Regions from separate parts of the Homo sapiens genome. Here region 2 is linked to region 1. Evidence: fine-mapped expression QTL. Tissue or cell type: naive CD4 T cells. Region 1 holds a variant in brackets; the other region holds the start of a gene. All regions are shown on one strand. Distances are between the middles of the regions.

Evidence for each region. PIP is the estimated chance that this variant, and not a neighbour inherited with it, causes the effect.
Region 2: CEP20 starts here. The variant in region 1 is fine-mapped to the expression of CEP20 in naive CD4 T cells (Schmiedel 2018, PIP 0.95).

The regions. Positions count from the first base shown.
Region 1 is chr16:15,587,074-15,595,161 of GRCh38, reverse strand. MPV17L-BMERB1 (MPV17L-BMERB1 readthrough) reads right to left here. Exons shown (of 6, transcript NM_001414674.1): 6 at 6,903-8,088. It overlaps BMERB1 (bMERB domain containing 1), which reads right to left. Exons shown (of 6, transcript NM_033201.3): 6 at 6,903-8,088. MARF1 (meiosis regulator and mRNA stability factor 1) reads left to right here. Exons shown (of 27, transcript NM_014647.4): 27 at 1-775. Among named protein-coding and RNA genes, the nearest start is that of MIR6506, 20 kb to the left of the region's middle. RefSeq lists enhancers at 3,796-4,090, 3,437-4,636, 7,577-8,078. The variant T/GTGTGTGTGTT (reference allele first, on the strand shown) is at 3,568.
Region 2 is chr16:15,884,544-15,892,647 of GRCh38, reverse strand. It overlaps CEP20 (centrosomal protein 20), which reads left to right and starts at 4,045. Exons shown (of 5, transcript NM_144600.4): 1 at 4,045-4,090. The coding sequence starts at 4,063.

The DNA of each region.
Region 1 (8,088 bases):
TATTATGGCACTCTCCGAATCCTCCTGAAGGCATTTCCTCTACAGACATAGTGTTACAGGAAGTGAAATGCAAATGTGCAATTTTTTTTAAAGGAGCTTTTAAACAAAGTAATAATAATTGGTGTTGAGAACATCAGTTGCCTTATTCTAAGATTTCATAAGGCTGAGTTTGCACGCTTGGACTTCAGTTCTGCTAGCATGTAAAGAGTGGTGGACTTTAAAACCGTAAGAGGTATCATTACAAGTCACCTGGAACAGACTCAAAGAACAGGTTCTTTGGGCAACAGACAAAGAAGAATCAAGTTCTGTGCTGTCCCGTGAGTGTGTCTGAGTACCATTCACTGGAGTTGCTGCTTAGGTCTGGGACGTGTGTGTGACTCTTAACAATTGCTGTCTGAAAATGAGAGAGAAGACTTCGGAAGCACATTGTGTTCATAATGTACTCCACAATGGCCAGTCCAATTGCTATCTATTTTTTTATCCAGAGGCTTAATTAAATGATGTGGTAAAATGATGTTTGAGCATTAAGACAATGTAATTCTTTATTTCTGGGTGGAAAGATATACCGGATTAAATTTATCTGTTTAAAAAAATGACAAAAGTTATCACCAAAACCCCCTTTCCCATCTTGCACTGTTTGTTTTGGATTGGGTTTGGGGGAAAGAGATGTTTTTCTTAGTTGTCTACTTTGTTTGAACACTTTTGTTGTGGTTCAAGTGCTGTTTTGTGTGTTGGGACCAAACAGTTGTCAATAAACTTTACAAGCGAGCATCTATTTTGAGTTTCCCAAGTGAGTGGTTTTGTCTGTCTGTCTGTCTGTGGGGAGGAATTACAAACCAATACAGTTCTGCCATCTTTCATTTTGGGTCTCCTCAACTTCTCTCCCCTTCTGGAAATAGAATTGTGAGGTGGAGAGTAAATCCGTCTACATCTTAGAGGCCTTTTAAACTCAGCACACGCCGAAGCAGGTGGCTGGATGGTGGGCCCTTCGTCGTCAGGATCCTCCAAGTTTTCCAGCCTTTGTTCCAGCTTATAATTACATGTGGGAAAATACAGTAACCACAAAAACCTTCCAGTTAGAAAACTCTATTAATTCCTAGGCTCTCTCTTCTTGTGAAAGAAATCCAGCGTGCCCGCTGTCTCGTTTTTGGTCACTGCTAAGCATGCTTTTTGAATAAGCCAATTTGGAAAAGAGTTATTCCACAGATACAGTTGTGAAGCCCTCCCATCCCCTGAGACCGCCATTACCCCGTCACCCCTGCCACCAGCACCCTCTGGCAAGAATTTAAAAGGACCCAGAAGAGACTTGAGTAAATTGCTTCTTGATGACATTTTTTTCAAGTTCAGCAATGTTAAAAGCTGCTAAAGACCTTTCCAAACATTTCACGATGGCAAATTTGTGCAGAAAAAGTTGAGTAGCCATCGTGCCCCTTTTGAGCGGCGTCAGGAGGTCTTGTTAGGTGTGGACTGGGGCTGGAACGGTGGCTTTGCATTTATCTTTGTTTGTTTCCCACCTAGGAAGGTGATTCAGAGGTGGGGGCCTAGAAGACAGCTGTCTGGGGGAGAGCAGACCTGTCCGTAGCAGAGGGGGCTGCGCTGATTGAAGAAGATCTGTTCCCTCTCTGTTCCCTTTGCCAGAAGGAGCGTTGCGCTTTGGGATTCACCTTCACTTTCTAGCTGCTTCCATGGGCAGAGGGTGAGTCATGGCGCAGAAGCCCTCAGCGGCCTCCACCCACCTGCTGTCCCCATTGCTGGGGGGGGGGGCGGTGGGCGGCAAAACTTCCTCAATTCTCCTAGTGTCCCTGGCTGGGCCTTAAACTGACAAAGACATTAATAGGAAAAAAGCAAACAAATTTTACTTCATACCAGTTTTGCGAGAGTCTTCATAAGGAAATGAAGACCCCAGAGAAATGGCTAAGCCTGAGTGGTTTTTTGTTTTGTTTTTTGGTTTTTTGAGACAGTCTCACTCTGTCACCCAGGCTGGAGTGCAGTGGCATAATCTCAGCTCACTGCAACCTCCACCTCCCAGGTTCAAGCGATTGTCCTGTCTCAGCCTCCCGAGTAGCTGGGATTACATATGTGCACCATCACACTGGCAAATTTTTGTATTTTTAGTAGAGATGAGGTTTCACCATGTTGGCCAGGCTAGTTTTGAACTCCTGAGCTCAAGTGATCCTCTGGGCTCAGCCTCCCAAAGTGCTGGAATTACAGGCATGAGCCACCACGCCTGGCTGAGAACGCTTTTTTTTGGGGGGGGGGGGGGCGGGGGGAAAAGGGCTAGAGAGCTTAGAAGGTGCCAAGCCAGAGCACCAAGAGCCAGAACTTTCCTTAGCAAGATGAAGAGAAGAATACACACGTTCCGGGAAGGAACGCCTTGGAAGTGGGGGAGCTGAGGTGCAGAGGAAGAAGGCATTGCAGGGTGGAAGGGGCCGTTCTTAGAGGGAAATCCTGCTCAGTGGCTGGGCTGCTCAGCTCCTCACTCCGCACGAGGTGGTGAACCAACCAGGAGCATCCGCAGGGGAGCAGTACCAGGGCCAGCAGGGAACATATTGGGCCTGCTTGGCACCGTCTCTTCCATCCGCCTCAGGCAGCTCATGTGATGGCCTCCAAAGGCTTCCCAGGTGCAGGGCCTGGGCATGAGGGAACCCCCGCTCCTACCACCCACCTGCCCCCACTGCAGTTTCTGGTATCAGCAAGTGCAGACAAATCCACACTGGGGCTGCAGGGTCGCCGCCCTTGGTATTTCAGCAGCCAGAGTCTGATGCATCAAGGGCAGGTGTGGCAAGAATCAGGAAATACATTTTTTTTTTTTTTGAGACAGAGTCTCACTCTATCGCCCAGACTGGGGTGCAGTGGCACGATCTCGGCTCACTGCAACCTCCTACCGGGTTCAAGCGATTCTCATGCCTCAGCCTCCGAACAGCTGGGATTACAGATGCTGCCACCACACCTGGCTAATTTTTTTTGAGACGGGGTTTTGCCATGTTGCTCTGGCTCGTCTCAAACTCCTGGCCTCAAGTGGTTCACTTGCCTCGGCCTCCCAAAGTGCGGGGATTACAGGCGTAATATAATATAGATATTATATATAGATATAGATATAGATGTCTCTATAATATCTATATATAAATAGATATATCTATTATATATAATAGAGATATATATCTATATATAATATATAGATATCTATATATTATATATAGATATATATCTATATATTATGTATAGATATAATATAGTCACACAGTCAACCATGCCCGGAACCCCCAAGCCCCCACTTTTTTTTTCCGAGATGGAGTCTCACTCTGTTGCCCAGGCTGGAGTGCAATGGTGCGATCTCGGCTCTTTGCAACCTCCGCCTCCTGGTTTCAACCGATTCTCCTGCCTTAGCCTTCCGGGTAGCTGGGATTACAAGCATGTGCCACCACACTTGCTAATTTTTGTATTTTTAGTAGACATGGGGTTTCACCCTGTTTTTTAAATTCTCTAAAAGGAAGAGGACACTTTTTTTGTTGTTGTTGTTGTTGTGTTGTGTTGTGTGTGTGTGTGTGTGTGTGTGTGTGTGTGTGT[T/GTGTGTGTGTT]TTGAGACAAAGTCTTGCTGTGTCTCCAGACTGGAGTGCAGTGGCGCAATCTCGGCTCACTGCAACCTCTGCCTCCCAGGTTCAAGCGATTCTCCTGCCTCAGCCTCCCAAGTAGCTGGGACCACAGGCGCCCACCACCATGCCCAGGTAATTTTTTTGTATTTTTAGTACAGATGGGTTTTCACCATGTTAGCCAGGATGGTCTCAATCTCCTGATCTCGTGATTTGCCCGCCTCGGCCTCCCAAAGTGCTGGGATTACAGGCGTGAGCCACCGTGTCCAGCCCTGTTTGCTTTTAAATGGGAGAGACCTGTTTAAATCCCTCCGATGGGAAGAGAAAGAACAATTGGGGCTACAGTGGTGGGGAGGGAGGGAGATGAATGATGACTCTGTCACTAACAACCCCTGGGACCGTGGGCAGTGGATTTACTGCCACTTCCTCATCTGTAAAGTGAGAAGTGATAACAGGATCTGACTCACTGTTTCAAGTGTTTATTCTGCCTCCGCTTGCAACCTCTTGCAACCTCCGCTTGAAAAGGGTAATGGATTTACTGCTACTTCCTCATCTGTAAAGTGAGAAGTAATAACAGGATCTGACTCATCAGGCTGATGTGAGGAGGGAACCAGCCAGTGTGAGCACATTGCTCAAGGCATAGAGATAAGCTACAATAAATGTTATTCCCATTATCAACCTCCTCCATGGCTTCTAAAAGGAGCAAGTCTAGGTGTGCAGGACCCCACAGTCTGCAAGGTTTCCCAGCTTGGAAGGTGGCCCTGGTAATCTGGAAGCGTCTGTGACAGCTTAAATAAATTGGATTTTTTAATGTTTTCTTTTTTTAAAAAAATCAGTAGGAATTACAGGAACATACAGTAGGTGTACCCAGAGCTTAGCGGAAGTACCAGAGGCAGGATTTTGATGAGGGTTTGATCTCCTCTGGTTCGTTGGATCTGTGAGTGACTGCTGTATAACTGGCCTGAGGTCAGACCTCGCTGACCCCCCCACTCCCCTCTCCCCTTTTTTTTTGAGATGGAGTCTCGCTCTGTCGCCCAGGCTGGAGTGCAGTGGCACAATCTCTGCTCACCGCAAGCTCTGCTCACTGCAAGCTCCGCCTCCCGGGTTCACGCCATTTTCCTGCCTCAGCCTCCTGAGTAGCTGGGACTACAGGCGTCCACCACCACGCCCGGCTAATTTTTTGTATTTGTAGTAGAGATGGGGTTTCACCGTGTTAGCCAGGATGGTCTCGATCTCCTGAACTCGTGATCCGCCCGCCTCGGCCTCCCAAAGTGCTGGGATTACAGGCTTGAGCCACCACGCCCGGACCCCCCAAGCCCCCCCTTTTTTTTTTCCGAGATGGAGTCTCACTCTGTTGCCCAGGCTGGAGTGCAATGGTGCGATCTCGGCTCTTTGCAACCTCCGCCTCCTGGTTTCAACCGATTCTCCTGCCTTAGCCTCCCGAGTAGCTGGGATTACAAGCATGTGCCACCACACTTGCTAATTTTTGTATTTTTAGTAGACATGGGGTTTCACCATGTTAGCCAAGTTGGTCATGAGCTCCTGACCTCAAGTGAGCCTCCCACCTCGGCCTCCCAAAGTGCTGGGATTACAGGCATGATCCACAGTGCCCAGCCTTGACCCACATTTTTTATGGGGAAAAGAGGGCGGTGGGCCCTTTGCAGCCTGAGTTTTCACTGCACGTTGGAGCGGGAGGGGTCTGTGGTGGGTGGAATTGGGTCCTCCCCAAATGCATGTCTACGTGGAGCCTCAGAATGTGACCTTGGTTGGAAAGAGGGTTTTTGCAGAAGTAATTAAGGAAAGGGTCCAAATGAGATCATACTGCATTCGGGTGGCCCTCACTCCAATGACTGGTGTCTTTTTAAGATGAGAGGGTGCACAGAGGCACATATACAGCGGAGGCGGCCACGTGGAGACAGAGGTGAAGACTGGAGTGGTGCAGCCAGGGAACTGCCAAGGTGCCAGGAGCCACCAGGAGCTGCAAGAGGCAAAAGAAGATTCTTCCCCACAGAGGGAGCAGAGCACCGCAGACAGGTTGATTTCAGGCTTCTGGCCTTTAGGACTGTGAAAGGAGACGGTTCCACTGTTTTAAGTCACCCAGTAGAAGGTCATTCATTATGGCATCCCCAGTACACGAAGAGTCTGGCTTCATGATTGGTCTAGGTTGGTGAAGGAGGACACGGGGTCCTCTGAGGCCATTGTGGTGGCACTGAGTAGCCCAAGGGACCCTTTTCAGCATCAGAATGGTGGGAAGTGGTGTGCAGACCAAAGCCGCGAACACGCAGAGTGGGAGGACTGGGGTCTAGCAGCCTGCTGGGAGGGCCTGTCCAACCAAAGACCTTTTGATCTACAAATTTTTTTTTTTTTTTCGAGACGAAGTCTCGCTGTGTCACCCAGGCTGGAGTGCAGTGGCGCAATCTCAGCTCAGTGTAACCTCTGCTTCCCATGTTCAAGAGATTCTCCTGCCTCAGCTTCTTGAGTAGCTGGGATTACAGGCACAAGTCACCACACCCAGCTAATTTTTGTATTTTTTGGTAGAGATGGGGTTTCTCTGTATTGGCCAGGCTGGTCGCGAACTCCTGGCCTCAAGTGATCAGCCTGCCTCTGCCTCCCGACGTGCTGGGATTACAGATGCGAGCCACCGCACCCAGCCAATTTACAAATATTTTGAAAATGCTACTTATGAATGGCCCAATAATTTTACTTCTAGGAGTTTATCTTAAGGAAAAAATAAAAAATTCAGATGAAACCTTATCCCCCTAGATGTTTATCAAGACACTATTTTTTTTTTCCAGGGGGTGCGATCTTGCTCTGTTGCCCAGGCTGGAATACAGTGGTGTGATCATGGCTCACTGCAGCTGGAACCTCCCAGGCTCCAGCAATCCTCCCACCTCCCAAGTAGCTGGGATCACAGGCCCGCGCCACCGCATATGCCCAGCTATTTGTATTTTTAGTAGAGACAGGGTTTTGCCATGTTGCCCAGGCTGGTCTCGAACTCCTGGACTCAAGCAATCCTCCCGCCTCAGCGCCTGGCCCAAGACACTTTTTTTGTTTTTTTTTGAGATGGAGTCTTGCTCTGTCACCCAGGCTGGAGTGCAATGGCACGATCTCGGCTCACCGCAACGTCTGCCTCCTGGGTTCAAGTGATTCTCCTGCCTTAGCCTCCCAAGTAGCTGGGATTACAGGCACCCATTACCATGCCTGGCTAATCCAAGACACTATTTATAAGAAAACCTAGAACCAGTCTACACATCCAATAGTGAGGAAATGATTAGATGAATTACAGTACATCCACAAGATGGATTACTAAACAGACATTGGCATGATTTATGAAGAGTGTTTAATGTTTACAAAGAGCTTTTAATGATGTGGAAGATGGTGGTATAATAAGTAGGAAAAAACTGGTTATAAATGATACCACAATATGATGTCAACGATGAAAAAATGCACAAAAAAAGACTTTTTTAAAACGTCGAAACATCAGAGTGGTCTCTAGTTGGAGGAATAATTTTTTTTTTTTTTAAGACAAACTTCTTCATACTTTTTGTACTTTTAAAATGATTTACTATGTACATGGATTACTTCCATAATCAAGAAAAAAAGTAAAAACTTTTAAAATGCTGTGAACGTGGTTTCCATTTTTATTTTCTCTGATGGGTGACTGCACATCAGCATCTTGAGTTATGCTAACTACTTAGGCTGGTCACGACACACACACACATACAGAGAAGTCACACAGGCTGTACCGGGCTGGCTGTTGCAAATGTACATGAATTACACGGGTTGAAGTTGTTTGGCAGCTAGTTAACATATGCCACCCAATGACGGGACACAATCTGGTCACACGCTGCCTCTCCTGCCTGTTGCTGTTCTTTACAAAGGTCCGTGTGTCGGGCTGGCAAAGTGGCATCCTGCTGGCATCTCTGTGGTGGCCCCGGAATGGTGGAGTGCCCAGGTCAGCATCTACTCTGGGTCCCATTCTCAACTGCTCTGGCCTTGACATCAGAGCTTCCGGTTCCCTGCTGGCTCTTCTGCACACTGGATCCATGCCAGTCCAGGCCCCCTCCAGGCACACACCTGAGGCAGACTGAGAGCACAATGGACGCTGTCCTGATGTGAACTGTGCCCAGACACAGGATGGGGGGAAGCGGGAGATGTGACCACGACACCACACACAAGCTCGATCTTTACAGATGGGCCCTCTGGGACTGCTATATGGGTGGTGCCCGAGAGACACGGGGGCCATGTGGAGCCCTCCAGGGCACAGTTGCTGGGAGAGGACAGACGGGAGGGGACCTGTGCCCATGTGCCTAGCTCTGAGAGCAGAGCTAGGAGGGTGGATGGGGAACGTGTCCGACATGGTGCTAGATTGTTGAGAAGTCACGACTACACACAGCTGGGGAGCATGCCCCTCTCCCAGTTCATTCACACGGTGGGTTAGATACAGCTAGAGAGAAGTGGAGATATGCTTTTTTGAGGGAGGACCTTTCCTGGTGTTTGGATAAACAG
Region 2 (8,104 bases), 300 kb before region 1:
ATTGGACAGAAAGTGCCTGATCTAAACCCAGCAAAGCCTGTCTGCTCAGACTTTTCTTGGGCTCTCTGTGCAGCATTTCTTCCTTGAGGGTAGCAGGCAGAACCCTTTCTGGAATGAGGGTCTTTTGACCCACAGTCAGATTAGAGTCCTGCTTGGGGCAGGTCAGAGGTGGACAGGAGAAGATCAGAGAGGGAGATTCTGTTTCCTGAGGCCTAAAGTGCCTCAACATTATAATGAGGTGAATGGGAGTTAGATGCCAGGAATCGTGGAGATGAAAATCAATACCTATATCATAACACCACAGGAGTGCTTTTTCTGAGGGACTTAAAAATACCACCTATGGAATTTAGTTAATCCCCAAAAATCTCTTGAAATGCTGGCCAGGTATTCAGTCACTGTGGTTTTACAGAGTAGAGAAACAAGATAGGACCTTTTCAAGGTTACAGAACAGATATGTGTCCCATAATCAAAAATTAATCCAGTCAAAAATTAATCCAGTTTGGAATAGGAAGAGATTCCTCTAGGTTACAATCACTTTCAAACTTTTCTGATGGCTGATCACTTTAAGAAATACAACAGGTACCAGAACACACATGTGTACCTGAAAGGAAAGTTCTAGAAAACCATACTTCTATGTTTTCTATTTGTTACATTCCATTTCACTGAAAATGTACTCATGGGGATCTACTAATAAATAGATTTCAAAACCTACTATTTGGTTAACCAGCAGTTTAAAGAGCATTATCCTAGACTCTAGGTCAAGATACTCTGCCTGGCCCCCCTTTTTTTTTAAGTCTCAAGAAAAAGTAAGAGAGAAAGAGGAAAGAGAGAGAGAAAGAAAGAAAGAAAAGAAAGAAAGAAAGAAAGAGAAAGAGAGAAAGAGGGAGGGAGGGAGGGAAGGAAGGAAGGAAAGGGAAAGGGCGGGGAGGAAGGAAGGAAGGAGAGAGAGAGGAGGGAGGAAAGGAAGGAAGGAAAGAAGGAAGGAAGGAAGGAAGGAAGGGAAAGAAAAGGCATCTCCCCTTGTCACCAGGCTAGAAATGCAGTGTTATGGTCATGGCTCACTGTAGCCTCCACCTCCTAGGCTCAAGCAATCCTCCTGCCTCAGCCTCCCGAGTAGCTCGGACTACAGGGACACATGCCAGGCTAATTTTTTGTTTTGTTTGCTCGGTTTTTTTGTTTGTTTGTTCGTTTTGGTTTTTTTTGACACGGAGTTTCACTCTTGTCGCCCAGGCTGGAGCACAGCGGCGTGATCTCGGCTCACTGCAACCTCCACCTCCCAGGTTCAAACGATTCTCCTGCCTCAGCCTCCCGAGTAGCTGGGATTACAGATGCCTGCCACCATGCCCAGCTAATTTTTGTATTTTTGGTAGAAATGGGGTTTCACCATGTCGGCCAGGCTGGTCTCAAACTCCTGACCTCAGGTGATCTGCCCTCCTCGGCCTCCCAAAGTGCTGGGATTACAAGCGTGAGCCACCGTGCCTGGCTGTTTGCTCTTTTGTTTTGTTTTGTTTTGTTTTGAGTCGGAGTCTTACTCTGTTCCCCAGGCTGGAGTGCAACCTCTGCACCCCTGGCTCACTGCAACCTCTGCCTCCTGGGTTCAAGCAATTTTCCTGCCTCAGCCTCCCGAATAGCTGGGATTACAGGCCTCTGCCACCACGCCCGGCTAATTTTTGTATTTTTAGTAGAGATGGGGTTTCACTGTGTTGGCCAGGCTGGTCTCGAATTCCTGACCTTGTGATCTGCCTGCCTCAGGCCTCCCAAAGTGCTGGGATTACAAGCGTGAACCACCGCACCCGGCCTTGTTTGCTCGTTTTTAAAGACAGGTTCTCCCTATGCTGCCCAGGCTGTTCCCCCTCCCTTTAAAAAAAATAGTTAACAATTATTGATTGTATATTTCAAAATAGCTAGAATACTTGTAATGCTTCCAACACAAAGAATGTTTGAGGTGATGTTTATCCCAATTGCCTTGACTTGATAATTACACATTGTATATGTGTATCAAAATATCACGTCCCTCCCCATAATTGTGATATATCAATTTTTCTTTCTCTCTTTTTCTTTTCTTTTTTTTTTTTTTTTTTTTTTTTTTTTGAGAAAGGGACTCACTCTGTCGCCCAGAGTGGAGTGCAGTGGTACAATCAGCCGTCCAGGCTCAAGTGATCCTCTCTCCTCAGCCTCTCGAGTAGCTGGCATGCACCATCATATCTGGCTAATTTTTTTTTTTTTTTGTAGAAATGCGTCTCATGTTGCCCAGCTTGGTCTAGAACTCCTGAGCTCAAGCAATCCTCTATCCTCGGCCTCTGGAGTAACTGGGACTACAGGCATGCACCACCATGCCCGGCTAATTTTTTGTATTTATTTTGGAGAGATGGGGTCTTGCATTGCCCAGGCTGATCTCAAACTCCCGAGCTTAAGCAATCCTCCCTCCTCGTCCTCCCAAAGTGCTGGGATTACAGGGATGAGCCACCGCACCTGGCCAATGTATCAGTTTTAAAAACAATAGGCATGGAACCAAAAGTATGCTGGAAGTTCCTCGGAAAGAGGTTTCCTTGCTCTTAGGTGGTTTTTTTTTTTTTTTTTTTTTGAGGCGGTGTCTCGCTCTGTCGTCCAGGTTGGAGTGCAGTAGCGCGATCTCATCTCACTGCAACCTCTGCCTCCCAGGTTCAAGCGATTCTTGTGCCTCAGCCTCCCAAGTAGCTGGGATTACAGGCTCCTGCTACCACGCCCGGCTAATTTTTGTACTTTTTTTTTAGTACAGAGGGGGTTTCACCAGGCTGGCCAGGCTGTTCTCGAACTCCTTACCTCAGTCTCCCAAAGTGCTGGGATTCCAGGCGTAAACCACCGTGCCCTGGCAGCTCTTAGGTGTACTTTTTTTTTTTTTTTTTTGAGACGGAGTCTCACTCTGTCGCCCAGGCTGGAGTGCAGTGGTGCCATCTCGGCTCACTGCAAGCTCCACCTCCCGGGTTCACGCCATTCTCCTGCCTCAGCCTCCCGAGTAGCTGGGAGTACAGGCGCCCGCCAGCACGCCCGGCTAATTTTTTGTATTTTTAGTAGAGACAGGGTTTCACCGTGTTAGCCAGGATGGTCTCGATCTCCTGACCTCGGGATCCGCCCGCCTCGGCCTCCCAAAGTGCTGGGATTACAGGCGTGAGCCACCGCGCCCGGCCACTCTTAGGTGTACGTCTAATCGATGTTTATTATTTAGCCAAGTGTTTGGATCTCACCGGCATTACAACTGGAATCATGCAACCTCACACTCAGTTTAGGGTACATTATTCCCCTGTTCCTTTTCCTTTACTTCCATGGGATGTTGGAGCTTATTCCTTCATTAGTTAGTTCCATAAAAAGCTCCTGGACTCCTTACATGCACTGTGTAAGTGCGAGTGGAAGAGGACAGGCTGGTGACCTTGGTTAAGTCTCTTCAGCGATGGAGGACTCTGTTTCCTTCATTGTAAAAACGGCGTGATCATAAGGAAATAATGCGCTAAGGCGTCACAGTAAGTGCTTAATACAGTGGTTCTCGAGGTGTGATCTCCAGACCGACCAGCAGTACCAGTACCACCTGGGAACTCGATAGAAATGCAAATCCTAGGGCCTCACCCCAGATTTACAGAATCAGAAACTCTATGGGGAGGACTAGCAAACAATCCGTTTAAACAAGTCTTGGAGGTGATGAGGATTCATGCTCAAGTTTGAGAACCGCAGGGTTAATAGGTGGTAACTACTAGCAGTTGGTACTTGAGGCTGCAGAGACAATGAAAAACTCAGCTGGCTAAAGTTAAGCACTAAGGTGCCAGCAGCACCCCACAGGGCTCTCCACTGCCTCAGTCCCCGCCCTCCCTGCCGTCTCACTCAACTGGGCCTTCCGAGAGCGCTCGCTGATTGGTGGAGTCTCTGGTCGACATTCACTACCCACTCAACCGCAGAGCTCATAAACTGAGAGGGGCGGAAGTGGGCGGGGCGAGAGCTGTGCGCCTATTGGCTACAGACCACGCCGCAGGGTGAGTGGGGCGGAGCTGCGCGTGCGCAGGGCCGCGGTGCGGCCCTGGCGGCCGTTGAAAAATGGCGACTGTGGCAGAGTTGAAGGCTGGTGAGTGCGAGCAGGGAGGCCTCCACATGGGAAGCGTCGGGCCTTCATCTTGTGGAAAGGATGGGATGGGAGGAGAGCGCGCGGAACACATGGGTTGGCTTTTACAGGCGTCATTCTTCGGTGTGAGGGCCTGCGGGGAGCGTCTGGCTGCTGTCTTGGCCCGTGCGCGGGGAGCTCTTATGGGGAAGAGGTTGCCCACTGGCGAGTTTTAAGCCAGTTTGGAGCTAAAGGAGGAGTTGCGTAATCTTCAGGCATCTAAGAGGCCTACAGGCCTGCATCTTGGGCCCCTGGCTCATCTTCTTGGACCCTGCCGGGGGCTGGAGGACTTGGACCAGGCTTGGCACTCAGGGCTGATGACTACAATTCCCACAACCCCTATTGGGTTAGGCACTGCCCTAAACAATTTGCTTGGTTGTCTCGTTGGGTCCTTACAACAACCTGTTAAGTAGCCCTCCCCTCCTTGCTTTTTTTTTTTTTTTTTAAAGAGAGGGTCTCTCTGTCGCCCAGGCTGGAGTGCAGTAGCGCGATCACAGCTCACTGCAGCTTCGAACTCCGGGACTCCAGCTATCCTCCCACCTCAGCTTCCAGAGCAGGTGGGAATACAGGGGCTCTTCACTACGCCCGGCTAATTTTTGTATTTTTTGTAGACACGGGGTCTTACTGTCGAACTCCTGGTCTCAAGCTATCCTCCTGCCTTGGCCCCCTCAAAGTGCTGGGATTACAGGTGTGAGCGCCTGGCCCCTTTTTCATCAGAAGAAACTAGAGGCAAAAAGTTTGCTGGCCTGGCCATTCTCCTGTCTTTTCAGGAAAAGATACTCTAAGCTAGTTATGTTTGAGTCATTAATGACATTTGTACGCTGTTTACTTTGAAGCAAATGTCCAGACAAGTAATAGTAATAATAGTTATCATTGAGCCTCATGTGTCAGGCACTACTCAACTCAGCCTGTGTGTTACCTGATTGTAACAACCCTATGCCCATTTCATAGACTGGGAAACGAGGTACTGAGAAGTGAAATAGCTCAAAGTGATTTCACTGGAAAGAGACACAGCATGGGAACCTAGTTGTGACGCACTGGAGCGCCAGGTCTTAATCACTGAGCAAGATTGCTGTCCAAAAAATAAAACCAGTTCCACTTTGCAGGGAACCCAGGGTTTAAACTAGTAATTCTTAGATATTTTAGGGAGGAGACGTGTATAAAAGTGTGTATTTGGGGACAGGGCTGGTGAACAATCATAAAACAGAACAGGCATGCATCTGTCCACAAGAACAGACTTCACGAGTCTACAGATGCTGTTCCCAGGGAAATACACATCACATGTAATATTGCATACATTTTCAGAGGATTTAAAGGTACACTTGGAATGGGCCAAGCACAGTGGCTCATGCCTGTAATCCTAACACTTTGGGAGGATCGCTTGAGCCCAGAAGTTTAAGACCAGCCTGGCCAACATGGTGAGACCCCATCTTTATTTAAAAAATAAAAATTAAAAAAAAGAGCCGGGCATAGTGGCCTGTGGTAGTTCCAGCTACCCCACAGGCTGAAACAGGAAGATAGCTTGAGCCCAGGAGATAGAGGTGACAATGAGCTACAGTGGTGCCACTGCACTCCAGCCTGGGCAACAAAATGAGACCTTGTCTCAAAAAAAAAAACAAATTAAAAAATAAAATAAAAAAGGTACTCTTGAAATATAAGCGAGGTTAAGACCTTTCCGAAGAAGTTTTGATGGCGCAGTGTTCTAAGCATAATAGAGGGAAAGGTAAAATGCTATGGACCTCCAAAAGAAACCCGGTGAAAACTTGTTTGCCAGCCAGTTACCTTACATTTTATGGGCATTTACCTTTTTTAAGCACGATCACGTTTTTCCTTCTTACTTGGTTCTATCTCTGAGAGGTAGAGCTCATTATTTTAGAGAAGGCAACTGAGGCATGGGTTGGTAATCCACCACTGAGGTGCTGATGAGACATGCTAGCTTTCCTCATTCCACTGTCACTAATTCTCGTTTCTCTGTCCAGTTTGAGGCTGTCCTGTGTGCAATACAGAGTAATTGGGACAGGATCCTTGCCAGTGACAAAATCTCTCCATCCAATTTCCAAAGATGGAATTAGAGAATAGGGGTTCAGTTATGATTCTAAGAGTACAATAAGGCTGTACCTTCCTTTTATGGACCTGTTACAAACTCTGATCTGGTGATAACTGTACTTAACCTATCTGCAAGAAGGTTGAAGGGATGCTTTAAAAATGAGGGGAAAGAAAGGTCAAAAGTCAGTGAAGATTCTATCTCTTTAGTCATATGATCCAGGGTTATTGTTGACGTTATTTATTGAAGCTTAGAAAGATCTTATGTCCATACTGACTTGGATAAGCTCCTGGGCTCTCTTTATGGATTTTTGTTATTGTGATGTACTTACTTGGTGCCTTTGGCAGGGTGCAGAACAGTGTTAAACTACATTGATTTCCCAGTAGTGTACAGCAATGTATTATAATCCTTCTAGGTGACACCTACTGAGCTCTTGCTCTGTTCTTGACTCTGTGGATGAGATGTGTTCATTCTCTGAAGTTGTCATTTAGCCAGTAGGAACTGTTTGAAAATAAAAGTTGCAGATCACTACAAGGGATGGTGCCAATTCAGTCCTAAGATCCCCATTATCTATACTAAGTATGTACAGCCAAATCCCATGATCATAACTGCTTTGTCATGGTGACTCTGGCTAATCAGTAAGTTAGATTTCCATTCTGCATACACATCCCTGACTCCTTAAGATGGCATTGATACAGTCACGTGGTAGATTTCTAACTAGGCTTAAAATTTCAGAATCCTACTGTTCTAAGGAATTAACTCATAGTTGTCTTTAAAACAACGAGGCCAGTGGGCGCAGTGGCTCATGCCTGTAATCCCAGTACTTTGGGAGGCTGAGGCGGGTGGATCACGAGGTCAGGAGATGGAGACCATCCTGGCCAACATAGTGAAACCCTGTCTCTACTAAAAATACAAAAATTAGCCAGTCGTGGTATCGCACACCTGTAATCCCAGCTATTTGGGAGGCTGAGGCAGGAGAATTGCTTGAACCAGGGAGCCTGGAGATTGCAGTGAGCCGAGATCGTGCCACTGCACTCCAACCTGGCGACAGAGCGAGATTGTTTCAAAATAACAACAATGAAAAACCCAACACCTTTTCACTCCCTAAAGCGTTGTGGATTATCAAAGGTTTGTGTTTTTTTTTTTGGTTGGTTGGTTGGTTGGTTGTTTTAAACAGAGTCTCACTCTTTCGCCCAGGCTAGAGTGCAGTGGCACCACCTCAGCTCACTGCACCCTCCACCTCCCAGGTTCAAGTAATTCTTGTGCCTCAGCCTCCCAAGTTGCTGGGACTACAGGTGCGTGCCACCACACCCGGCTAATTTTTTGTATTTTTTTAGTAGAGAGGGGGATTTCACCTTGTTAGCCAAGATGGTCTCAATTTGCTGATCTCGTGATCCGCCCGCCTGAGCCTCCCAAAGTGCTGGGTTACAGGCATGAGCCACCATGCCCTGCCATCAAGGTTTTTACACAGTAACCCAACAGACTTCTTTTATGGAATGTAGTTGTTTTCTTTAATCATCTTTCTAGACCAGAGGTTGTTAGTGACAAGCAGAACCTGTGTGCAGTGGCAGACACTCTTGAAAATATATGAGAGACTGGGGCTTAAGTTCAGGTCTCAGTAAGCAACTATAATCCTATCCCCCGCCTTTTCCCCTCACTAAAGAATTATGTATTGGCCGGGCACGGTGGCTGACACCTGTAATCCCAACACTTTGGGAGGCTGAGGTGGGTGGATCACGAGGTCAGGAGATTGAGACCATCCTGGCCAACACAGTGAAACCCCGTCTCTACTAAAAATACAAAAAAGAAATAGTTGGGCGTGGTGGCACGTGCCTGTAGTCCCAACTACCCTGGAGGCTGAGGCAGGAGAATTGCTTGAACCTGGGAGGCAGAGGTTGCAGTGAGCTGAGATCGTGCCACTGCACTCCAGCCTG